Linked DNA regions of Homo sapiens: regions 2 and 3 are each linked to region 1. The links come from fine-mapping of genetic effects on gene expression. A gene starts in region 1. Each other region holds a variant in brackets. All regions are shown on one strand. Distances are between the middles of the regions. Region 1 holds the start of RAB34 (RAB34, member RAS oncogene family). Region 2 overlaps FOXN1 (forkhead box N1). Region 3 holds the start of SUPT6H (SPT6 homolog, histone chaperone and transcription elongation factor).

Evidence for each region.
Region 2: its variant is fine-mapped to the expression of RAB34 in whole blood (INTERVAL, PIP above 0.99).
Region 3: its variant is fine-mapped to the expression of RAB34 in whole blood (TOPMed, PIP above 0.99).

Annotation. Positions count from the first base shown.
Region 1 is chr17:28,712,788-28,721,036 of GRCh38, forward strand. RAB34 (RAB34, member RAS oncogene family) reads right to left here and starts at 5,081. Exons shown (of 10, transcript NM_031934.6): 1 at 4,426-5,081; 2 at 4,116-4,207; 3 at 3,206-3,271; 4 at 3,013-3,114; 5 at 2,854-2,918; 6 at 2,669-2,720; 7 at 2,408-2,489; 8 at 2,245-2,335; 9 at 2,006-2,113; 10 at 1,497-1,923. The coding sequence starts at 4,479. The coding sequence ends at 1,856. RPL23A (ribosomal protein L23a) reads left to right here and starts at 7,198. Exons shown (of 5, transcript NM_000984.6): 1 at 7,198-7,243; 2 at 7,920-8,103. The coding sequence starts at 7,219. It overlaps SNORD42B (small nucleolar RNA, C/D box 42B), which reads left to right and starts at 7,763; the gene lies at 7,763-7,829. RefSeq lists a silencer at 4,914-5,173 and enhancers at 5,854-6,454, 6,455-7,056, 6,713-6,762, 7,193-7,412, 7,753-7,912.
Region 2 is chr17:28,537,864-28,546,112 of GRCh38, forward strand. FOXN1 (forkhead box N1) reads left to right here. Exons shown (of 9, transcript NM_001369369.1): 9 at 1-1,037. Among named protein-coding and RNA genes, the nearest start is that of UNC119, 11 kb to the right of the region's middle. The variant CAATA/C (reference allele first, on the strand shown) is at 5,003.
Region 3 is chr17:28,662,201-28,670,449 of GRCh38, forward strand. SUPT6H (SPT6 homolog, histone chaperone and transcription elongation factor) reads left to right here and starts at 5. Exons shown (of 37, transcript NM_003170.5): 1 at 5-142. RefSeq lists enhancers at 1-592, 1-23, 121-795. The variant A/G (reference allele first, on the strand shown) is at 4,212.

The sequences.
Region 1 (8,249 bases):
CGAGGGAACAGAAATGGAAAAAACAATCACAGGAGAGTGTGAAAAGAAGTTATGGCCATATCGACGACATTCCATGCACCACACCCCTCCATTTCTCTTGGCACCAGCTTCCAAAGCCAGGATGAAGAGGAGGAGAAAGGATGGGGTCCACACCTTGTTTTCTCCACCATCATCCAGGGGCTCTGCTGCTGCTACTATTGCTCTGCCTGATCCCCACCTTCACTTTCCTCCAGACCCAAGTCCGGAGTGGGTAGGGCTGCTGCCCAGACCCTCCTTCCCGTGGTAGCTCTAGAGAGTCTAGGAACTGCGAGGGAGGGGAAGCCAGGAGAAGGGAAGTGTGCAGAAAAACCAACCATCCTGGTGAGAATGGAACCAGGAATGGAACAGACAGAGCACTTGGCAACTGGGAGCCAGAATCTGCCTTCTAACTTGGACACCCCCTTAGCCTCCCAGGATGACACGAGGCCATAAGTCCTCCTTTGTTGACCCAGATGTCTGAGGTGCTTCCAGCTACTCTGGAACTCTGGGTTAGATGTCAACAGGGAGCCAGGGTCTTGGTCACCTTTCTTTCTTATAAAAGTTAATGGCATAAACAACCAAAAAAACAAACAAAAAAAAAAAAGAAAGAAAAGTTAATGGTTATAACTCCTGAGTTCAAGCAATTCTCCTGCCTCATCCTCCCAAGTAGCTGGAGTTACAGGCATGCACCACCACGCCCGGCTAATTTTTGTATTTTATTTTATTTATTTTTTTTTATGAGACAGAGTCTCGCTCTGTCACCCAGGCTGGAGTGCAGTGGTGCCATCTCGGCTCACTGCAAGCTCCGCCTGCCAGGTTCAGGCCATTCTCCTGCCTCAGCCTCCCAAGTAGCTGGGACTACAGGCACCAGCCACCACGCCTGGCTAATTTTTTGCATTTTTAGTTTCACCATGTTAGCCAGGATGGTCTCTATCTCCTGACCTCGTGATCCGCCCGCCTCAGCCTCCCAAAGTGCTGGGATTACAGGCATGAGCCACCGCGCCCGGCCTAATTTTTGGATTTTAATGGTGACGCGGGTTTCACCATGTTGGCCAGGCTGGTCTCGAACTCCTGAATCCAAGTGATCTGCCTGCCTTGGCCTCCCAAAGTGCTGAGATTACAGGCACGAGCCACCGCACCCTGCCTGGAAAAGTACTTCTTAAAGGGAAGGCAAGAAAAGGGTGAAAAAAAGAAAAAGATTCTCCAGTGGTGAAAATTTGGGTATAAGCACCAAGTAGGAGGACACGTGTGGGGAAAGGATCAGGGGAAAGGGCTCTCAAAGCCAGCCATTCAGACTTCACCCAGTGAGGGCCCAGTGCAGCCCCCAAACTGATGTTTCAGCTCCCAGCCTACCTGAACCTGCCCAGGGGCCAGGGATGGCCAGCACAGCATCCCCAGGGGACTCTAGTGCCAAAATGGCCACACAGTCATGCCCATTCCACATCCATCATCCCCAACAAAGAACTCCAGCCCCAAAGTGCTCGTAACAAAGAAATTTTAATGCATAAGGCACAGTGAGAGGCTGGAATCATTAAGCATCCTCAAACACAAAGGGCCCAGCAGGCTGAGCAAAAGAACAGAGACACTCTCCCTCACTACCACTGGGCGCCCTGGACAGTCCCCTGAGGAGTAGGGGGCATCCAGTCTTTGGCACGGTGCCTGGGGGCAGGAAGTGACTAGCATGATCCCAGCTACCCCTCTGTGGGAATACTGCCACCAAGAGGCAGCTCTTTGGTCTGGATAAAGTCAGTGCAAATGTCCAGGGGTCAAGCTCTGGAGGAATGAGGGTGGCACAGTGCCCTAGGGCTGGGCAGTCTCTGAACAGTCTCCTCAGCCCTCATGGGCAACATGTGGGCTTCTTCTTGCTGGCAGTTAGGTAGAGGTTGCTGTCATCACTGTTGATGCCTAAAGAAGGGTGGAAAATATGTGAAGCAGGGATTGGAGGCTCACTGTGCCCTCTGCCACCCTCAACCAGGCAAGCACTCACGGACAACATCCCCAATGCGTCGAGCCCCCGATTTCTCCAGCTCAGCCAGCACATTGGCCTCAAAGGTCAGTGCTGCCACACGGAAGAAGAATTCTCGGACATTCTCACCTGACACAGAGAGCAGATAGGTGCTCAGGGGCAGTGCTGGGTCTGGGGACACAGGGCACAGCTGGAGGTGTAGCAGTGAGAGGAGAGCCAGGCAAGAGTGTCACAGCAGAGCCCTAAAGCCTCCAACTCACCAGTGAGAGATGAGACTGCCCAGTACTCAGCCTTCATCTCCTGGGCCACCTGGAGGGCGTCTTTCTCCATCAGCGCATACTGAGCAGGGGTCTGAGGGAAGGCCAGAGTCAGAGGGGGGCATTCCCTCACCAAGCTGGGAAGTCCCCCCACTGGCACACTCACACTCAGATCCTTCTTGGAACCTACAAGGAAGAGAAGCACACTGGAAGGGTCATTCTCCTTCAGGGCATCGGCCAGCCACTGCCTGCCATGGGAGGTGGAAAGTAAGGGATGAGTGAGTCTGCAGGGCCCCTCCCACTGACATTCATAGGCCCAATTACCCCCTCTCTGGTCCTACATGCATTCTTCTTCTTCCTGACCACCCCTCTGTTCTGAACCCTCTCTTCCCGGAGCCTCCCATTATATTGCAGGATGCTCACTTACTTGGTATGTTCCAGAGATGCCACATCATTCAGGTTGAAGACAATGATGATGGCTGGAAGAGTGGCAGAAACAGCCCCAGGTTGACAGGGAAGACACTACTGCTCATTTCCCCAATCCTTCCAGCTCCATATGAGAAGCCATGTGCACTCTGAGACCCACCTACCCCACTTCACCCAGCCCCTTACCTTGAGCTCCTCTATAGTAGGTTGATGCAATGCATTTGAACCTCTCCTGCCCAGCGGTATCCCAACTGGAAGGAAGGAAGAGTGAAGCACAGGTATGTATCTTGGGGGGTGTGGGTGCTGGGGAGAAGGGATAGCTGGAAGGGGTGTGGAAGCACTCACAGCTGCAAACTGAAGGGAATGCCCAGCACCTCAAATCGTTCCATCTCGAAGTCCACTCCAATGGTGGCCTTGTAATTCTTATCAAAGGTGTCTTTGCAGAACCTGAGAGGGTACCAGATGCTGTGATCTGGAGCCAGCCCACCTGGCTAGGCTTGGCCCCACCCTGCCCAGCTCAGCTCCAGCACCCCCTTACCTATTAATGAGGCAAGTCTTCCCCACCGACAGGTCCCCCACCACAATGACCTTGGAGATCTTAAATCTGCTGGACACAAGAGTGGGCAAGGGGAGTGGGCACGAGCTCTTTCACCCTAGGGAGTTCCAATGCTCCCGACTAGGTCCAGAAAGGTAGCTGCACCCAGGCTGAGGGTATTATAGACACCAGGCATCCCAGGCAGCTGCGTGGACAGGTGTGCTGGGGAGGAGGAGTGTTTTGTGCTCCAGAAGCAGAGAGACATGAATTTGAATCCCAGCTCTCACACTGATTAGCTGTGTGACTTTGGACACGTTATTTAGCCTCTCTAAGCCTCAGTTTAAACATTTAAGTAAAGTTAGTATATATTTTACTGGGTCGTTGTGAAGGTTAAAATGAGATAAATGTCCTATATTCTAAGACACCCTCCCCCCCGCATTTTAATGTCTGAAATCAGGATATATCTTAAGTGATGGACTTTTCCATTCAATAAAGATGATAGTACCCAACACTGCCTGGCACACAGCAAATGCTTAATTAATGGTGCCAACTGTTATCAGTATTACCTTTAAAACCCACAATAAGACTCATCCCTGTAAGCACAGCCAGACCCCTGCCCTGGGGCTCCATGGATGCTATGTGGGGATCTGAGCAGGTGACCACCTTCCCATTTCAGACACCTTAGTCTCTACTCAGAAATCCAGCTGCCACCCTTCTACCCAACCCCATCTCATAGAACTCACAACAACCTTGTTGGGAGAAAAGGAGGGGATACAGGGGCTTAAAGAGGGGGAAATAACCATATAGCTGGTAGGGGCTGAAATGAAGCCCCAAGGGGGTGGTTGTTTACCCTCGCTATGACTACAGAGTTTCCTGGGACCTCCTCTCTTTGTTGTGGGTGTCCCTAACTCACCCCACGGTGCCTGTCCGGTGCTCCTGGCAGGCGCAGGTGACGCGGGGGTGGAAGTCTTTGTGCCCGTGCAAAGCGGCCTCCTTCCTCAGGCACTTAGTGGGAAGGATGGAAGAGAATGGAGCTTCCTACTCCTGGCCCTTGTCCCGCAGCCAAGCGGCCCGGGTAGGGGTGGAGTGCAGGGACCACCCAGAAGCACCAGGCCTAGCTGGGTGGCAGGGCTGGGCCCAGTCCTCTAACTGGTCTGGTGCCGCCTCCTCCTCGCCCACACCCCGGGCTGTAGACTGAAGCCCGACGTGGCCCCGGCGCCTACCTGGGGCAGCTCCGCCAGGACGCGATCCCTCCGCACGGGTGCCAGAATGTTCATCCTGCCTGCGGCCTTGCAGGGCGCCCTGAGAAGGCGCCGAGGCCGGATCCGCGTCAGCGACCCGGGCGCGTGGAGACCCGACGATCACCCGCGGCCGGGGTGTCCCGACTACAACTCGGGGCCACGGGGACCCTACGGGAGTCCGCGGTCTCGGAGACGCTACGACCACCGCGGGCCACGGAGATGAAACAATCACCCGGGGCCGCGGCGAGCCCAAAATCACCCGGGCCCTGGGCGTCCCGAAGATGACTCTGGGGCGAGGAGACTCTTCGGCCGCCAATTGGGGGCGGGGAGTCCCGTCTGGTGGGGGCCGGGCCCGCGCAGACCCTACGATTACGCGGGGCCGGATAGTTCCTACGATTACGCGGGGCCGGATGGTTCCTACAATAACCCGGGGCCGCGGAGACCCGACGTCATCTCGGGGCTGAGGCTGCCCTACCATTACAGAGCGGCCCGGGGGCGCGGAGCGGCCCCGCCACACGGGGTCAGTGTGGGCAGGGGCGGCGCTGCCAAGGCCCGCAGGCCGCTGGAGGAGGGGGCGAGGGGCCCAGTCCGGCTACAGGGCCTCGAGTCCCACTCCGCTCGGGCTCCGCCAACGCTGTAACACGATCCCCGGAAATTCCTGGAGAAGGGCCGCCCCCCGCCCCTCTCCTGGCGGCTCCAGGCCTCGCTGCCCGCCCTCGCCACCCCCTCCTCTCCACCCTTCTGCGTTGCCCCGCTCAGGCTCCCTCTTTTGACGCTTCACCGGGCACCAGGACCGCCCCGACCCAGGCTGGAGCCTATCCAGATAGGGACTCCCCAGGCTGCTCTCCCCTGCACCTCTATACCCGGCTGCGCCTTCATGGGGACCCTTACCCAGCCGAATTGGTGATGGGGAATCGGAGACTGCTGCGCAGCATCTGGCGATGCCAGGAACCAGCAGGGAGGGGAAAGGGGGAGAGAAGGGGCCCAAGGAGAGGCGGCGCTTCCCTCCTCAACTCCAGGCCTGGGAGGTGACTCATAGAGTCTGCCCCCTCTCGCCCTTCTGCCCTGGGAGGTCGGGGGTGAGGATGGTGGAGGGGAAGCGTGCGAAGGGGGTGCCAGGGTTAGAATGAGGTGCCCACCGAGGAGAGAGACGTCTGAAGTCTGGCGTCTTTTCCTTCAAGGCTGCTGTGTAGATTGTGAGGTGGGAGGGCTGAAGATCAAGTTCCCTCGAGGGAGGTTAAAGAAGGGCTAAGTGGACCCGGAAACTCTGCTCTTCGGGGTGGTCTCCGCTCTGGGAGGCGGGGACTCCCCTCTGGTATGGGTGTTCATTGTTCTGGCCCCATTGGAATCTATCCCCCAGGGACAACTCCTTTGTGCAAAGTCCTGCAGGATAGAAGAGGGGGCAGTGCACAATCAATTTCACCGTCAAAGGGGACATGTCTGGTTTTATGAAGGGAGAGGGAAGAAGAAAGGATCAAGTGGGGATGGGTTAGGCACACACCTTAGGAGAAGCGAACCTGAGTGTTAAGAAACCTTTCTCTGTGTCTGGAGCTGAATTTGAGGATGTAAAGATGACCAGGACACGGAAGGGAAGACTAGTTTAGGGCAGGGGATTGTGAGTGAAGTTACTAACCGGAAAAACTAGCGAATCTTGGAGAAATGTGTGGAATTTTCATAGAACTTCAAATGCATTATCAGGAAACGCAGTAAAACTTGACAGTATCAGTGTCGCAGGTAAAGAGGGGCAGGTGTGGCCGCCTTGTACTTCCTCTGACACTTCCCCCTCGTGACTCGATTATTTATTTATTTATTTATTTATTTATTTTGAGACAGGGTCTCACTCTGCCACCCAGGCTGGAATGGCTCATTGCAGCCTCGACCTCCAGGGCTGAAGCGATCCTCCCACCTCAGCCTCCCAAGGAACTGGGACTACAGGCACGCACCACCACGCCCGGCTAATTTTTGTATTCTTTTGTAGAGACAGGGTTTCGCCGTGTTGCCCAGGGTGGTCTCGAACTCCTGGGCTCGAAGCAATTCGTCCACCTCGGCCTCACAAAGTGCTGGGATTACAGGCGTGAGTCACCGCGCCCGGCCCTGACTTGATTTTTTTCTGCCACCAAATCACTGTGTTATTGATAAACCACATTCCTCTCTGGACCTCAGTTCGACCGAGCAAATCCTGCTCCAGCACTCTAGAACTTAGCTGTATCTAACTCCCGAGTCAATCCAAATGTGTTCTTTCCTCTTGGCAGCGTTCCTGCCTCCTGGCATGGCAATCCTCTTCCCTGAGACTGGCAGTTGCTCAAGATAGGAAGCTCCCGGGACCAGACCCGAGCGCCAGCCGGCTACGCCGTCCGCTGGCCTGAGCAAATAAACGCGTGTCTTCAAAAAACTACAATCCCCATGGTGGCACGCGCCTGTAGTCCCAGCTACTCTGGTGGCTGAGGCAGGAGAATGGCGTAAACCCGGGAGGCGGAGCTTACAGTGAGCCGAGATCGCGCCACTGCACTCCAGCCTGGGCGACAGAGCGCTCAAAAAAAAAACAAAAAACAAAAAACAAAAAACTACAACCCCCATGAAGCTTTAGTGCCTTTGAGGGGAGGAGTGGCGCATGTTTGTTCACGCACGAAAAAGAAATTAAACCTAACTACCGTTCCCAGAGGGCGCCGCTCTGCAAATTACCCAATCAGCTCTAAGTACAAAGCATCGCGAGTCTTTAGTGCTCTTTGGCGCTATAAGCCCGTGGGAACGAGCATTGGAGACCCTTTTCACAAGATGGCGCCGAAAGCGAAGAAGGAAGGTGTGTGTTGGTGATGGGGCCGCAGCTGGTTTACCGGGGATTGCCGCGCCGCAGAGCGAACGAATTGGGAACACGGCTGCTGGGCTAAGCCCTGAGGGCTCTGCTCCGGGGCTGCTCCCTGCGTTTCGGACACGCTGCAGTATACGTGGGCCGCGTGGGCCCAGCCTCGTGGGCTGAGTTCCGGTAGAGGGAGTTGGGGGGGGGCAACGCGGCAGGCATCATCCGCCAGGGAGGGCCAGACATTCGGTTCTGGGAAGCTACATGCATCCACTGGTTGGAGCTCCATGTCCCCGGGCCTGTAAGGAATTAGTGCCCTCAGCTTTAACCATTTTCCTTCTGGTTCATGTTCAACCGGGCTACATTACCCGCCCCTCTCTCCGCAGCGTGGTTTTGCGATGGGGTATGTGTAAAATTCGTAGGACATTTTCTGGAAAGTATCAAGCGTTCATTCAGTGCTACTTTGTTTCATAGTCGTATCCCTGGAGTTACTTAGAGTTGGTCGCTTTCGCCTCTGGTATCGTGCATATGATGGAAAAGTTTTAATCTCCTGACACTTGTGATGTCTTCAAAGGAACCACTGATGCACCTGTGGCCAGGGTGGCCCACTGCAGTTCTTGGGGCCGGAAGTGACCGATTTCTAAATCCCGCACCCACGTTTTCTTTCCTTTTCTCCCAGCTCCTGCCCCTCCTAAAGCTGAAGCCAAAGCGAAGGCTTTAAAGGCCAAGAAGGCAGTGTTGAAAGGTGTCCACAGCCACAAAAAGAAGAAGATCCGCACGTCACCCACCTTCCGGCGGCCGAAGACACTGCGACTCCGGAGACAGCCCAAATATCCTCGGAAGAGCGCTCCCAGGAGAAACAAGTCAGTACTGCCCCCTGTACCCATGAAAAGATTTGGGTATTCTCCATTGGTAATTTGGAAATTCACTCACTCTGCGTGATGGTTTCTCAAACGCAAATTGTGTCCAGTGTGCTTCTCTAATTGGAAGTATGAGGAGATTGTTTCTG
Region 2 (8,249 bases), 170 kb before region 1:
AAAAGCTCAGGGCCCTGTGCCAGGCCAAAGATCCCCCCAGACCCCCATTCTGACATCCACATGCTCTGCAGTCCTGGCCCCCTCGTCATTTTCTTTCCCAGAAGCGCCCTGTATTTATTCCCCCATCTTCATCCCAACAGCCCAGCAAGAAGGAGGAGACAGAGAGCTCCTCCCTGGGTTGTCTGTGGACCCCCCCAGGAGCTGCTAATTGGCAGCACCCACTCAGCCATTCTCTACCCATCCTTAGTACATGCTCTGTCCAGCTTTCCCCAGGGTGACATACAGAAGGGGCAACATCTACCCGGGCACCAAACTGAGCCCAATTCCGAAGCAGTGTTTGGAAAAGCCCTTGCCCTCGGAAACTTGAACATGTCCTTTTTCCCCAGTCCCGGGTGCAGGAAGGGCCCCCTCCAGGTCACCACAATCTCACTCCTCCTCCAGAAAGAAAAGTTCACATAGTTTAGGTCCTGGCTTAACTCTACTTATGATGGTTCAACTTACACTTTTTCAACTTTAAGATGGTGCAAAAGCAATACACATTCAGTATGTTCCTCGACTTAGGATGCGGTTATGTCCGATAAACCCATTGTAAATTGAAACCACCGAAAGTCAAAAACCACTTTCGACTTACGATGTTTCCCACTCACGATGGGTTTCTCCGGATGTAGCCCCATCATAAGTTGAGGAGCACCTGTTAGTTACTTCCAACTGTCTCAGGCAACCTGGGCATTCAGGAGAAAAGCCTGGCACAGGGTGACAGGGAAGCACCCATGCAAAGCACCCCCGCTTTGACTGCTTGGCAGACCTAGGGTGCCCGGGAAGCACAAGGGATACCCTTGGCCCTGCGGGGTGTGGCCCAGGTGCCTGCCATGAGCCTGACCCCATCGAGGGGGAACCTCAGCCCACCCTGGGCCTGGGGGTGACAAGAACTTCCACAGGTTGGCCCCAGGCTTATAGGAGGCATAAGCAGATCCCGCGATGGCTTGTCATTGTCCCCTGTCCTGGAACAATAAAGCAAGTGCCTTGTGGTCTCACTACCAAGCTTTCATTTCTGGCCCCTCTCCCTAAGCAAAATGGCCAGGCCACACTGATGGCAGATGCCCTGGGCCTGTGACGTCCCTGTCACCCTCACCCAGAACTAGGAAGTTTCTAATCCAAAGAGTGAGGCATCTAGGAAAACTTCTTGACCCACTGGGGAGGCTGAGGAGCAGGTGAGCAGGGCCTCTTCCCAGGAGAACTTCCAAAGAGATGCAGGGAAGAGGCTGCCCTGGCCAGAGGAATGGAGGGGATGCCCTCCCCCAGACCCCTTGCCTCTGAGGTCTGCCCACTCCCTCTTTGCACCCCCATCTCCTCACACAAGAAGGAGTTGCTGCCCTGTCCAAACTGTGCCTTTCTGCTTCCAATCTGTCCCTGGCTGAAAGAGATGCCAAGTGGTTTGGGGCCCTGAGTTCCACAGGTGACAAAATGGAGCATGCCCTGGTGCTGTGTGCACTGCTGGTCCTGGAGAGTGGTCTCTGGATGGTCAGGGGCTCACTCAGTCCCACTTCAGACTCACCCCCTAGGTGTCACCTCCAGGTGGGGTTGGTGTCACCGCAGCACTGTCTCAAGAGAGATGGGGCAGATGTGGGAGCCAAAAGCACATACATGATCCCCAGGTCCCAGAGCAGCCACAAGTGGTGTCTCTGCTTAGAAAGCTCTTCTTGGATGAAGGCTGGGCACGGTGGCTCACGCCTGTAATCCCAGCACTTTGGGAGGCCCAGGCAGGCAGATTACCTGAGGTTGGGAGTTCAAGACCAGCCTGGCCAAAATGGTGAAACCTCATCTCTACTAAAAATACAAAAATTAGCTGGGCGTGGTGGTGGACGCCTGTAATCCCAGGTACTCAGGAGGGAGGCTGAGGCAGGAGAATCGCTTGAACCCGGGAGGCAGAGGTTGCAGTGAGCCGAGATTGGACCACTGCACACCAGCCTGGGCAACAGAGTGAGACTCTGTCTCAAAAAAAAGAAAAGAAAGCACTTCTTGGATGGCTAGGCACAGTGGCTCATGCCTGTAATCCCAGCACTTTGGGAGGCCGAGATGGGTGGATCACTTGATATCAGGAGTTCGAGACCAGCCTGAGCAACATGGTGAAACCCTGCCTCTGCTAAAAATACAAAAATTAGCTGAGTGTGCTGGTGGGCACCTTTAATCCCAGTTACTCAGGAGGCTGAGGCAGGAGAATCACTTGAACCTGGGAGGTGGAAGTTGCAGTGAGCTGAGATTGTGCCACTGCACTCCAGCCTGGGTGACAGAGTGAGACTCTGTCTCATAAAAAAAACAAAGCTCTTCTTGGGGCTGGGCCCAGGGGGCCAGCCAACACCTACCTCTGAGAGGATAGGTCTGCAAAAGACCCCATAATAGAACCCCACCTACCCCAGCACCCGCCCCAGCAGAGGCTGGAAGGCTAGATGCAGGGCTGGTGGGCTGAGGTAGGATAGGGAGTGGGGAAGGCATGGCCAGCGGGTGCACCCAAGAGGAAGGCCCACCTGCCCCAGCCTGGCCCTGGCTGTGTAGGAAGCAGGTGCAGGCTCTTTGCCAAGACCTCAGGCGATGTTGCACACCAGCTCTGTCCAACCCTGGGCCTGTGTCTTGATGACATCCAGGCCCCCAAACACAGGGCAAATGTTTCCTGGGAGAATCCTATTGGGACCCATTTGCTTGCCTCGGGTCCTGAGACTCTGAGAGCTCAGACAAACCTGCCTTATATACCCAGGCTAGGCCATCTCCTCCAGGAGACCCTCTGTCAAAACTCTGGCCAGTGGGCACATTCAGCACACCTGTGTGTGAACTGGCCCCTAATGCAAGAAGACAGGTAGCAAGCAGGTAGGACTTGGGTCTAGTTTTGTGTGTGTGTGTGTGTGTGTGTGTGTGTGTGTGAGAGAGAGAGAGAGAGAGAGAGAGAGAGAGAGTGTAACCAGGCCCTCAGACTTTTTTTAACTGGGCCTCAGTTCCACCCTGAAATGAGCCCCACACTCCCACTCATATGCTGCCCCCTGCTGGCCACCCCATACCAAGCATATAGCCATTATTAGAGTGAGCAACCATCTTTTTAATTTTATTTTTCTAAGTAAATATGGGGTCTCGCGATGTTACCCAGGCTAGTTTTGAACTCCTGAGCTCAAGTGATCCTCCCACTTCAGCCTCTGTTAGGTGCTGGGATTACAGGCGTGGGCCACCGCACCCACCTAATGTTTGTATTTTTTGTAGAGGTAGGGTCTCACTATGTTGCCCAGGCTGGTTTCAAATTCCTAGGCTCAAACAACGCCACCTCCTTGGCCTCCCTAAGTGCTAGGATTACAGGCATGAGCTACCACACCTGGCCAGGGTGAGCAACAATTTGTCTGAATGGATGCAGCGTCTTCAAGTCCGTTATTTGGAGGGAATTAATCCTTTTGCTCAGGGATTCTAAATGTGAGAGATCTCAAATGGATTAGAATTCCCAGGTCAGGAACTTGCATGAAAAAGTTACATCTTCATTTTCTCTCATCCTTACCTGAAATCTAGAATTTCCCTCTATTGTGAATGTCAGCAACAAATCACACTAGCATTGGCAATACCTGTGACTTTGTCAATAGAAATCACAGATATTTTGTAATTGTATTATAGATAGTACAAAATATGTACAAATATATACACATGCACACACATATACACACACATAAAGTAATTTGTCGCTTAACAACAGACATACGTTCTGAGAAATGTGTCCTTAGGCAATTTTGTCATTGTGCAAACATCATAGAGTTTACTCACACGAACCTAGATGGTAGAGCATACTGCACACCTAGAGGCTCTATGGGATAGCCTATTGCTACTAGGCTACAAACCTGTGTGGCATATTAGTGTGCTGAATTCTGTAGGCAATTGTAACACAATGCCTATGTGTGTTTCTACAACACATAGAAAAGGTACAGTAAAAAATACAGTATTGGCCGGGCACGGTGGATCACACCTGTAATCCCAACACTTTGGGAGGCCAAGGCGGGCACATCACTTGAGGTCAGGAGTTCAACACCAGCCTGGCCACCAAGGCGAAACCTCATCTTTACTAAAAATACAAAAAATTAGCCAGGCGTGGTAACACACGCCTGTAATCCCAGCTACTCAGAAGGCCAAGACAGGAGAATCTCTTGAACCCAGGAGGCAGAGGTTGCAGTGAGCCAAGATTGTGCCACTGCCCTCCGGCCTGAGAGACAGATCAAGACTCCGTCTTAAAAAACATATATATATATATATATATATATATATATATACAGTATTATAATCTTATGTGACTGTCGACATATATGTAGTCTGTCATGACAGACACATCGATATCTAGTGCATGATTGTAGATACACACACACACACACACAGTCATCTCACAGTGGTTCCAGGGCCTCCCACAAATTCCAAAATCCATGAATGTGCAAGTAAGTCCCTGATATAAAATGATGGAGTATTTGCATATAACCTACACACATCCTCCCGTATACTTTAAATCATCTCTAGATTACTTATAATACTTAATACAATGTAAATCCTTTGTCAATCATTGTTATACTGTACTATTTAAGGACTAATGACAAGACAAATGTCTGCACATATTCAGTACAGACATTTCTGATGCACAGTTGGCTGAATTCACAGATGCGGAACCTATGGCCAATTGTATATAGTTTTTAATACATAAAATAAATAGGATAGGCCTGGCAGGGTGGCTTACGCCTGTAATCCCAGCACTTTGGGAGGCCAAGGCAGGAGGATCATGAGGTCAAGAGATCAAGGCCATCCTGGCCAACATGGTGAAACCCCACCTCTACTAAAAATACAAAAATTAGCTGGGTGTGGTGGCATGCACCTGTAGTCCCAGTTACTCGGGAGGCTGAAGCAAGAGAATCGCTTGAACCTGGGAGGCGGAGGTTGCAGTGAGCCGAGATTGTGCCACTGTACTCCAGCCTGGCAACAGAGCGAGACTCTATCC[CAATA/C]AATAAATAAATAAATAAATAAATAAATAAATAAATAGGATAACAATATATTTTATGTTCCTAAAATCCTTTTTATTGTCCATAGGCTTTAGCAGACTGACAACAAGAGAGTCTGTGACACATAGAAAAGTAAAGCAAGGGGCTGGGCCTGTAATCCCAGTAGTTTGAGAGGCAAAGGCAGAAGGATTGCTTAAGCACAGGAGTTCGAGACCAGACTGGGCAACATGGCAAAACCCTATCTCTACAAAAAATTAGCTGGGTATGGTGGCACATGTAGCTTCTGTAGTCTCAGCTACTTGGGAGACGAGGTAGGAGGATTGCTTAGGCCCAGGAGTTTGAGGCTGCAGTGAGCCATGATTGTGCCACTGGACTCTGGCCTGGACAACAGAGCGAGACCCTGACTCAAAAAAAAAAAAAAGGGTAATGTCCTTGCTTTAGTTGCCAGATGGTGGGGAAGTGGAGGGTGACTCTTAGGGGAGGGGCCAGGCTAGGGCGGCCTGGGACAGCAGCTTTTTAACAGCTGGAAGGGAAGATCTTAGTATTTTAACCACTGGTTTGGCAGTCCCAGTGAGCACCTTGCCGGCCAGCCCAGGAGGGCACGAGCTGTGGGTTTCCCTGTGGTACTTGGGCTTTCCTTCTCTACCCAGGGGCAGGATCCTCATGACACCCCTAAAGAGTCAAAGCAGGCCAGGCACGGTGGCTCAGGCCTGTAATCCCAGCACTTTGGGAGGCCGAGGCGGGCAAATCACCTAGGTCAGGGGTTCAAGACCAGCCTGGCCGACATGGTGAAACCCCGTCTCTACAACAATACAAAAATCAGCCGGGCATGATGGCTGGTGCCTGTAATGGGTCCAGCTACTTGGGAGGCTGGGGCAGAAGAATCACTTGAACCCGGGAGGCAGAGGTTGCAGTGAGCCGAGATCATGCCATTGCACTGCACCCTGGAGATCATGCCATTGCACTTCACCCTGGGCGACAGAGCGTGACTCCTTCTCAAAAAAAAAAAAAAAAAAAAAAGAGTCAAAGCAAAAATGACTGGCCCATTTCAGAGACAAAAGGGAATTGCCCCTTCAAGGTCAACAGCTCATCAACATCAGAGCCAAGACTAGCCCCACCTCCACCCTGTCTTCCTCCCAGGCAGCCTCTAGGTTCCTAGGGACAGTGCCAGGAACTAAATGCAGCAAGATGTACCATTTGCAATAGGACTAGTGCCAGAGGCATGAAGACTTAAAAGAAGGCATGGGGCCAAGGCTTTTCCCAACCTAGGCTCCTCCAAGCCCAAGGAACGCAGGCCTCTTTTCAAGGTGAGTGCCAACTGGGTGCCTACTTCAGAGATGAGAACCTCAGAATAGGGACCCTCCTCTCTCTCTGAAGATGGAAGTGCAGCAGGCCCAATCTAGAACCTCAACCCAGTTTTACTTAGCAGCTGCAGTGAGTAGAACTATTATCAGGGTATTGGGAAAAGGTCCTCTTCCTTGCTATACCTTCTCTGCAGACTTGTAACCCCATAAACTACAACAGCAAAATCACCCCTATACTGGCCTTTCTTTCATACCTGTACAGCCTCATCTGCAAACAAATCCCTCCCTTCCACATTCTTGTCCTCATTCTCCTTCTTTACCTTTGTGGCAACTGATAGTTCCTGCCCACTTGCTTTGTGATGAAATTCTTTCCTCCAAAACATGGCTCTGCTCCCACCTCCCTGGAGGCTCACTCCTCCTGTCTCCATTGTTTCCTTTCCTTCCGCCCTGCTCTCAAACACTGGCCTTCCCTAAGGTGATACATTCTCGTTCAGGCACCCTCAATTAGGGGATGGGGATTTGTATTATAATAGCATTGTTTGGGAGAATCCCAGTAATTGCAGGACATTTGGCATTCCTAAATAACAAGAGTGTCAGTGGAGGACCCCATGATCTCAGCCACCATCATAGCTTCAGAAATCACCTTGTGGCCGATGGCCTCGACAATCACCACCTCCAGCCCTTATTCCCCTCCTGGTCTTAGGGCCCACCTTTCCTGTCTTCTGGTAATTTCCTCCATGCCACAGCATGTCCCAGTCTGAAGTCACCCTCTCCTGCTGGCATCCACCTTGATCCAACCTGCATTCCCAAACCCAGTGATGGCACCTGTAGCTACCCCAGCACCCAGGCCACAAACCAGGCAGTCAGCCTCACCTCCTCCCTCTCTCCAACCCACTCATCCAATCAGCCACCACTCCTGAGGATCTCACCTCTTAAAAATATCAGTTTCACCTGTTTCTCTCCATCTTTGAGGATACTGACCTAATTCAGTTTCTCTTTCTCTCTCACCAGATTCCTGCAGCACCCTCCTCATCCTCACTGCCCCCCTGCCTTTAGTATGGTAGTGCATGGAGCCGGACTGCCTGGATTCAAGTCCTGGCTCTGCCACTTCATAGCTGTGCAACGTTGGCTGGGTACATTAACCTCTCTGGACCTACATTTTCTGTAAAATGGGCATCATAATAGTGCCTTCCTCAGAAATGACCATGTTTATGAGTTAACACATGTAGAGCACCCAGCCTGGCACTCAGTAAATCTTGGCTATTAGTGTCATTCTTTCCAATCCACCATTCACTCAGCAGCCAGAGATAATCTGACCAGGTCATGCCCACTTAATCCTCCACAGGGGCTCCCCACTTCTCAGAAGCCCTGCTCCTAAGGCTCTGCCAATCTGTCTTCTTTTCACATCATATTGACTCTTGAACACACCTAGGCTTATGCCCATAATCCTGGCACTTTGGGAGGCCAAGGCAGGAAAATCCCTTGAGCCCAGGAGTTTGAGAGGGAGACCCCATCTCAAATAAATAAGTAAACAAACAAACAAACACCTGACAAATCTTGCCTCTGAGCCTTTGTTTATGCTGTTCCCTGTGCCTAAGCACTCTTCCCCATCAATTTCCATCACAAGCACCTGCTCCAGTGCTACCTCCTCTAAAAATCCTCCCCAGAACCCTCCACACAGAACGACTCTGATTCTTGCTCTCCGTGTCCCCAGTCCTTTTTTTTTCCCTAGGGACGAGTATGTGTTCCTTGTGTCTCACTCATTTCAGAATTCCCAGAATTCAGTGCAGATCCTAGCTCCACCCCACTTCCCCCAGCAAGGGCTTCACAGAATCAAGCTGAATGCCAGCACTTCTGGGCCTCCTAGGGCCAGAGCTCCTCAGCCCAGAGGGTGCGTCAGCTCTGGGCATATCTGAAGGAGGGCCTGAAACTGTAGGGTGTG
Region 3 (8,249 bases), 51 kb before region 1:
GCACGTTGACGCAGCAGCGGCGGCGGTGGCGGCGGAGGGGCCGTGCGGTGGGTCCGTACTATCTTTTCCCAGTCTCGGTTCGACGACTCCATTTTCCTCGGTGGGGGCTTAGCGCACTGGAGGAGCGGCGGGCTTCAGACAGGTAAAGTTCCGACTGGAGAGCGTGTTTCTCGCAGGAGTCAGGTGGGGAACCGGGCTCCTAGGGCCTGGTCACGTAAGGGAAGAGGCAGTGGGGAGCCGTATGCGGGAAGAAGGGGGAGCCTGGCCTTCCCTGCTCTATGGGGGGAAGGGGGAGGAAAGCGCTGTAGTTGCTCAGAGTCCGAAAGCTTTTCCCAGCCCAGTGACACCCGGAACCCGTGAATCGGGTGGCACGTTGAATCAACAGGCTTCCTGGCATCCCGTCCTTCTCTCCGCAGGTTTTTAAAACTGGGCCACGCAAAAGGATTGGGGATGGAAGGGACCTGGGGCTTCTGAGCCAGGATCAGGTGATCGAGTTGTTTGTTCTGGGGATATGAATCCTGTGGAGCTTTCAGCAGCTCGGCCATCAGGCTAGAGGGCGATGCCAAATTCCAGCTCTTTACATATTGCTGAATAATACAAATAGAACTTTTTGTAGATGGTTGCATCCTTCATCCCTTTCTAAAGATCGAAGGTCTTGTAGAAGTCCTAAAGCCCGTCCATTCTCTATAGATTCATTTCCTCAAACGTTTGCCAGAGGCCTATCATGAACATCAAAATTAGTTATTAAGTCAAAACTCCATCTTCTAGTTTCTACCTTTCTCCTCAGGCACTCCTTTGAACCAGCTGGAGAAGTTAATTTTCCTGGGTTGTTGCAAGAACTGATACTTATTTCAGAGGGCTAAGATCTCTGAAAATACTTCCGTGGAAATTCACTGTAATATCAAAAGTAACAAGGGTGTATGAAGCTACATCATTAATGAGCATTAGGGAGTGTAAACAATATTGAATTTGATTAATTTCTTCGGAAAAATGTCTGGTTCCACTGTTTATCTGGAAGTTACCAGTTTGTAAGTCTTCAGTGTTTTGATTACAGAAACATAACTGCTCTTCCATCAGCTGTGAATTTAGAGCCCTTTTTTACGAGTAATGTCCCTTTCACCAGTACAAGTACATTTTTATTCACTTGGCTTGTGTGGCTGCTAGATTGGATTAGCATAGCCTTGCAACTCTAGGAGGTTTTAACTTCATCAGGAGATTAATTACATCAGAAAGTGGTACCGTCTGGAGAGGCTTAGTCAAATTTTACAGTTCTTCCTCTGAAAGCCTACCTAGTGTGGTGGAAACATGATCTTTGTAGGCAAATACGTTTGCCCTGATTCTATATTCTTGACCTTAATAAATGGCACTACCATCAGTCCTGCCTGTAATCCTTGTCTTCCTTCCTGTCCACTATTTCCCAATAAAATCAGTCACCAAATCCTGTCTCTCCCTGAAACTGTTCCCATCAGCATACAAATTATGTTCTGGTATCCTTCACATCCCTCTCCAATTACCATGCCAATTTTTTAAATTTCCATTCATAGATTTCTACCTGTACCAACTCAGCTTTCTCAACTTTCATTCACTCTTCATTTTATACCAATCTGGCTTCTCTTCTGCCCACTCCATTTTTTTTTTTTTTTTTGTGGAGACAGGGTCTTGCTCTGTTGCCCAGGTTGGAGTGCAGTGGCCCCATCATAGCTCACTGCCACCTGGAACTCCTGAGCTCAAGCAGTCCTCCTGAGGCAGCTTCTAGTAATCAAGTGCCACCACATCTACTTTGCCCACTCCATTGAAGTTGCTCTTATCAAGGTCACCAGTGACTTCTATGTTGCCAAATCCAATGGATACTTTGTTCTCATATTCCTCTGTCTCTGCAATATTCAACATAGTTACTCCTGCCTCCAAACTTTCATCTTGGCTTTATTGACATTTCACTCTTGGATTTTCTCCATTTCTCCGGCTGTTCCTTCTGAGTCTCATTTGCTAGCAACTTTTGCTCTCTATCTAATGTCTAAATGCTGGGGCTGGTCGCAGTGGCTCATGCCTATAATCCCAGCACTTTGGGAGGTCGAGGTGGGCAGATCACTTGAGGTCAGGAGTTCACAACCAGCCTGGCCAGCATGGTGAAACCCCATCTCTACTAAAAATACAAAAACTAGCCGGGCGTGGCGACACGCCTGTAATCCCAGCTACTTGGGAGGCTGAGGCAGGAGAATCACTTGAACCAGGGAGGCAGAGGTGCAGTGAGCAGAGATCATGCCACTGCACTCCAGCATGGGCAACAGAACAAAACTCCGTCTCAAAATATATGTATATCTACATATGTTGGAATTCTCACAGGAATCCCGAGCCTTCTACATGCTTCCCTTTAGGTAACCCAGCCCCATGGCTTTAATTACCACCTGAAAGTTGGCAACTCCAAAGTTTAAATCTCTAGTCCAGCCCTCTCCTCTATGTTGCAGAATCACGCGTCAAAAATGCCTGTTTAATTATCTCCATTTGGATATTTCTTAGGCACCCAAAGCTAACATAACCAAAAGAAAGTTTTGGTTTTCTCATCATTGCAAACCTTATCCTCCCGTTTCACTGAGTGGTGCTCCTATCCGCAGGGTTACCAAAGATAGACCTCTGAGAATCATCTTTGTTCTTCTCCTTTACTACTCCTCTTCCCCAGTCTTTCAGTAAGTCTTGTCACTTCCACTTGCAGAATGTTTTTGTAATCTGTCTTCTATTCTCCATCTTCACTTTTACCACCTTATTCCAAGCCACCACCATCTTTTGCCTGGGCTACCACAACAGTATCTTCAGTTTTCCCTGGTTTCCACTCAGATCTTCCTCCAGTTCATTTTCCATGTAACAGAATTGGATCAGGGCAGATCATGTCATTTCCCTACTTAAAACTCTCCAGTGACTTTCCATGGCCTTTACGCCCTGCTTGAGCATACCTCTCCCTCATAGGCTGCTGCCTTCACCATGCTCTAGTGCCATCAGCCTCAGGACATCACCTATTATATACCATGTTCTTGCCCACTTTCTCTACTGGAACCTCTCCTCCTACTTCTACAGGTCATATCCTACCTATTGACATCTCAGCCTAAGTAAACTCACTTTAGATGAGATGAGAATATGCATTTCCTTCTTCGCTTTTAGAGCAAGGTTTATTTTATTTGTTGCCAATATGTCTCCTGCACCAGAATACGGGCATCCTAGGGGCATGGACCTAGTCTTGTACGTGCCTGGCATGTGGTAGGCACTCATTAAATACATATTTATGCCAGGCATGGTGGTTCACGCCTATAATCCCAACACTTTGGGAGGCTGAGGCAGGCGGATCACCTGAGGTCAGGAGCTCGAGCCCAGGCTGGCCAACATGGTGAAACCCCGTCTCTGTTAAAGATACAAAGAAAAAATTAGCTGGACGTGGTGGTGGGTGCCTGTAATCCCAGCTACTTGGGAGGCTGAGGCAGGAGAATTGCTTGAACCTGGGAGGCGGAGGTTGCAGTGAGCTGAGATCGTGCCACTACACTCCAAGCCTGGGCAATGGAGCGAGACTCTGTCTCAAAAAAACGTATATGTATATGTATATGTATTTGTCCTAGCTACCTGGGAGGCTGAGGTGAGATTATGGCTTGAGCCCAGGAGGTGGAGGCTGCAGTGAGATGTAATCACACCACTGCACTCCAGTCTGGGTGACAGAGCAGGACCCCATCTCAGAAAATAATAAGTTTTTGTTGGATTAGCAAGTAGATTAAGTTCAGTTCTACATTTAAAACCCTGCAATGGCTTCCCAGTGCCTAGATCCTTATGACTTCTCCAACCCTTATGAACCATTCTTCCTCTCCTGGGCCTTCTCTGTACCTGCCACAGTACACGTGTTGTGCTAGAAGCACACGTCTCTGACATCACTCCCCAAACCATCTCCAAAGAAGCCAGCTCCTCTGCTGAACTAATTCCTCCTTACTCTTAAGGTCTTTGTTTAAAGTCACTTCCTCAAAACCAGGTTAGGTTGTCTTATTACAGGATCCCATGCTATTCTTATCATCAATTCTCTAAATCAGGGGTCACAAACTAAGGCCTGTGAGCCAAATAAGGTCACCCCCATTCATTTACATGTTATGTATGCTGTGCTACAGTGGCAGATTTGGCCCTATAGAGAAAAGGAAAGGTTTGCCAACCCCTGTGCTAGAGCAGGAACTATGCGCTCCTCA[A/G]TGTGTGTACCACAAGGTTCAGTAACTGTTAATCTCTCTTTGTGTTGCAGGGGTTCTGAATCTGGTTACATATTTCAGTTGTACTCTTCTTTAGCCCTTACCCTGTTTCTCTAAAGAAATGTGGAAAGAAAAGGAATACTTTTTTTTTTTTTTTTTTTGAGACGGAGTCTCGCTCTGTCACCTTGGCTGGAGTGCAATGGCATGATCTCGACTCACTGCAAGCTCTGACTCCCACGTTCAAGCGATTCTCCTGCCTCAGCCTCCTGAGTAGCTGGGATTACAGGCGTGCACCACCACACCCGGCTAATTTTTGTATTTTTAGTGGAGACAGGGTTTCATCATGCTGGCCAGGCTGGTCTCGAGCGTCTGACCTGACCTGAAGTGATCAGCCTGCCTCAGCCTCCCAAAGTGCTGGCATTATAGGCGTGAGCCACCGCGCCCAGCCGAATAAATAATATTTTTAAATGAACAAAATTAACTTTTTCTGTATTTTAACATCTTGACTTCATGTAATTAGGTTTTCAGGGTTTTTTTAATTACAAAGCCTTCTGAATTCCAGATTTAAAAGGACTTAAGTAGACTCTAAATACTTTTATCTATTAAACTTTTAGGTTTTGAAATTCCAAATTGGATATTCACTTATGGATACCTTTGGAATAGTCCTAGTCCCTTGCCCATAAAATATAGGATACAAGTGTAATCCCAGCACTATGAGAGGCTGAGACGGGCGGATCACAAGGTCAGGAGATTGAGACTATCCTGGCTAACACGGTGAAACCCCGTCTCTACTAAAAATACAAAAAAAAAAAAATAGCTGGGCGTGGTGGTGGGCACCTGTAGTCCCAGCTGCTTGGGAGGTTGAGGCAGGAGAATGGCGTGACCCCAGGAGGCGGAGCTTGCAGTGAGCCCAGATCATGCCACTGCACTCCAGCCTGGGTAACTGAGCAAGACTCCGTCTCAAAAAAAAAAAAAAAAAAAAAAAAGTGTGTGTGTGTATATATATATATATATATATATATATATATGTATGTGTGTGTGTATACATATGTATGTATATGTGTATATATGTGTGTGTATATATGTATATGTGTATATATATATAAATACGTGTGTGTGTGTGTGTTTTATATATATATATGTATATATGATACAAGACAACATGGAATGTCTTGTAGCTTAAACTCCACCCTAGACTTCTGGGGCTGTTCTCCAGAGCACCACGCCTAAATGTTTGCTCATGTTGCCTTTTTCCAGACTGTTTTCTTAAATCCTCTTTTATTCAGGCATCACCTTTTCTCAGATATTCCCCAACCTTCCCATTGCTCTCATAGTCCAGTTATATAACTTAACATAACCCTATTGTGCTTTGTCATAACGTTATTAACAAGTTTTTTGAGATAGATTGTGAACTCCACCAAGACTGTGAACTCCACCGGGGTAGGAAGCATATTTTACTCATTTTTATATACACAAGTCCCAGCACAGAGCTTGACTCTAAAAAAAAAAAACCCAGCAAATGTTAATTGAAGCTGCAAAGTGGAAGGAATTAACAGACTAGATCTCTTTTCACTCTGGTCTCCTCTTAATTGCCTACTACAACTTCTTGTTCAAAGGGAGGGACTGCAGAGGGCCTCCCTTGTGGCAATCTGATCCCAGTTCCATTCCTCTTCCAGCGAATGTCATGGTAACCACCAGCCTCTCCCATTGAGCCACATCTTGTTCTGCAGCTGTGCTTCTGACTAGAGAAACCTCTCCCTCCATCTCCCCACTGCCCTTCTAGACCTATTCCAGTTGCAAATTTAACTTACAGTGTGAGTATGGGGAAAATTTTAAGAGCATAAGTGCTAAATACAACATCCAAACTACATCAGGCTCATCATAGATACCATGTATTAATAATAATCATACACAAATAAATACATTAGTGTCTTTATTCTAGAGTAGTTCCCGCTTGTCAGTCTCAGACTGCAGTGCTACTGCAGTCTGCACATCTAGCTCCTGCAAGTTGCAGCAAGTCAGAATTGCTTCTGGCACACCTCTTATAACTGGAAGTCTTGGTATTGAGCTAGATTGGAGGCATTCCCCAGCTATAGCATAGTGTGTGCTTTATTGCTAACCTAGGCGATGGGAAGAAAGAGAACACAGCTATCTTTCCAAGCTGTGTGCAGCATGGAGCACCAGCTGCCCTTGAGACAGAAGAAAGCTGTTGTTTTCATCAGGTAGGCTGTGTGTTTCTCTGTTAAGTAGGCTGAGGGGCATCTGGTCTGCAGGAGCTGGCATTTAATTTGAAGATGTTGAGGCCTTAAAAGATTGAACTTGTGGGTCTGATAGCCTAATTAGAACAAGCTATGTGTGGGGGCTGCCGTACTCAAATCTGTTTTTAATGGCTCAGTTCAGGGCTGAGGGGGAGCAATGTCAAAATTAAAATTAGAGCTCTAGATTTAATTGGCAGAAGTTTAAGACTTTCACTTTTGGCAGTGCTCAAGCTAAATGACCTTAAGGATAGAGATCTTGGGGTCATGGGGGAGCATCACCCTAACCCCTAGGCTTACTATACCGCATCTCTTTAGGGTCTTTACAGTCACTCCTCAACTTTTTGGACTCAGGACCCCTTTATACTCTTAAAACTTATTTAGGACTTCAAAGACATTTTGTTTATGTGAGTTATATCCTTTGATATTTACCAGATTCGAAATTAAAACTCAGTGAGACATTTAAAAATATTTATTGATTTATTTTAAAGTAGTAAACAATAATACTTTTTATGAATAACAGTAGTTTTTTGGGTTTTTTTGTTTGTTTGTTTGTTTTGAGACGGAGTCTCACTGTCGGTGCAGTAGCACCATCTTGGCTCACTGCAACCTCTGCCTTCCAGGTTCAAGCAATTCTCCTGCTTCAGCCTCCTGAATAGCTGGGACTACAGGCGCCTGCCACCATACCCAGCTAATTTTTCATTTTTAGTGGAGGCAGAGTTTCACCATGTTGGCCAGGCTGGTCTCAAACTGCTGACCTCAGGTGATCGGCCTGCCTCGGCCTGGGGTTACAGGCATGAGCCACAGCACTCGGCCGAATAATAATAGTTTTTAAAACAAAACATTTTAGTAAGAATGGACTGGGTGTGGTGGCTCACTCCTGTAATCCCAGAACTTTGGAAGGTCGAGGCAGGTGGATCACTTGAGCTCAGGAGTTCGAAACCAGCCTGGCTAACATGGTGAAACTTTGTCTTAAAAAATAAATGAATAGCCGGGCGTGGTGGCTCACGCCTGTAGTCCCAGCACTTTGGGAGGCCAAGGCAGGTGGATCACTTGAGGTCAGGAGTTCGAGACCAGCCTGGCCAATATGGCCAAACCCCATCTCTACTAAAAAAAACAAAAATTAGCTAGACGTGGTGGCGAGCGCCTGTAGTCCCACCTACTCGGGAGGCTGAGGCAAGAGAATCGCTTGAACCCAGGAGGCGGAGGTTGCAGCGAGCCAGGATCGTGCCATTGCACTTCATCCTGGGTGAGAGAGTAAGACTCTGTCTCAAAATAAGTAAATTAAGTAAGAATGACATTCTTTGTTTTTTAGTACAATGTTTTAATGTCTGCTCTAACAGAATACAGCTGTGTTCTCATATGTTTTTGCATTCAGTCTGTTGTGATAACCACATGTCCTATAACCTCTGGAAAACTCCACTCTATGCTCCTGAGAGAACAGAGGGACTGGCCCCTGGACCACGCCCTGAAAACTATTGATAGATGTGGTACTGTCAACCATGAAGAGTCAGACAGACCTCAGCACTTACAGATGATAGTTTTGTCACCTTGAACAAATGACTACATCTCTCTGAGTCTGTTTCCTCCTCTGTTGAGAGAGAAGTGTGCTGTAACTCATAGGACAGTGTAGGGATTAATAGAATACTTGTTCTCCTTGATAGGGACATAAAATAGTAGGGTATTTGTTAGTGTCTGGCACTTGGTAGGTGTGTAATAAGCATTATTCCTCAGGGTACTTTTTAAAAAATTGCTTAAAATACCCAAGAGAGACCCATATTATTTT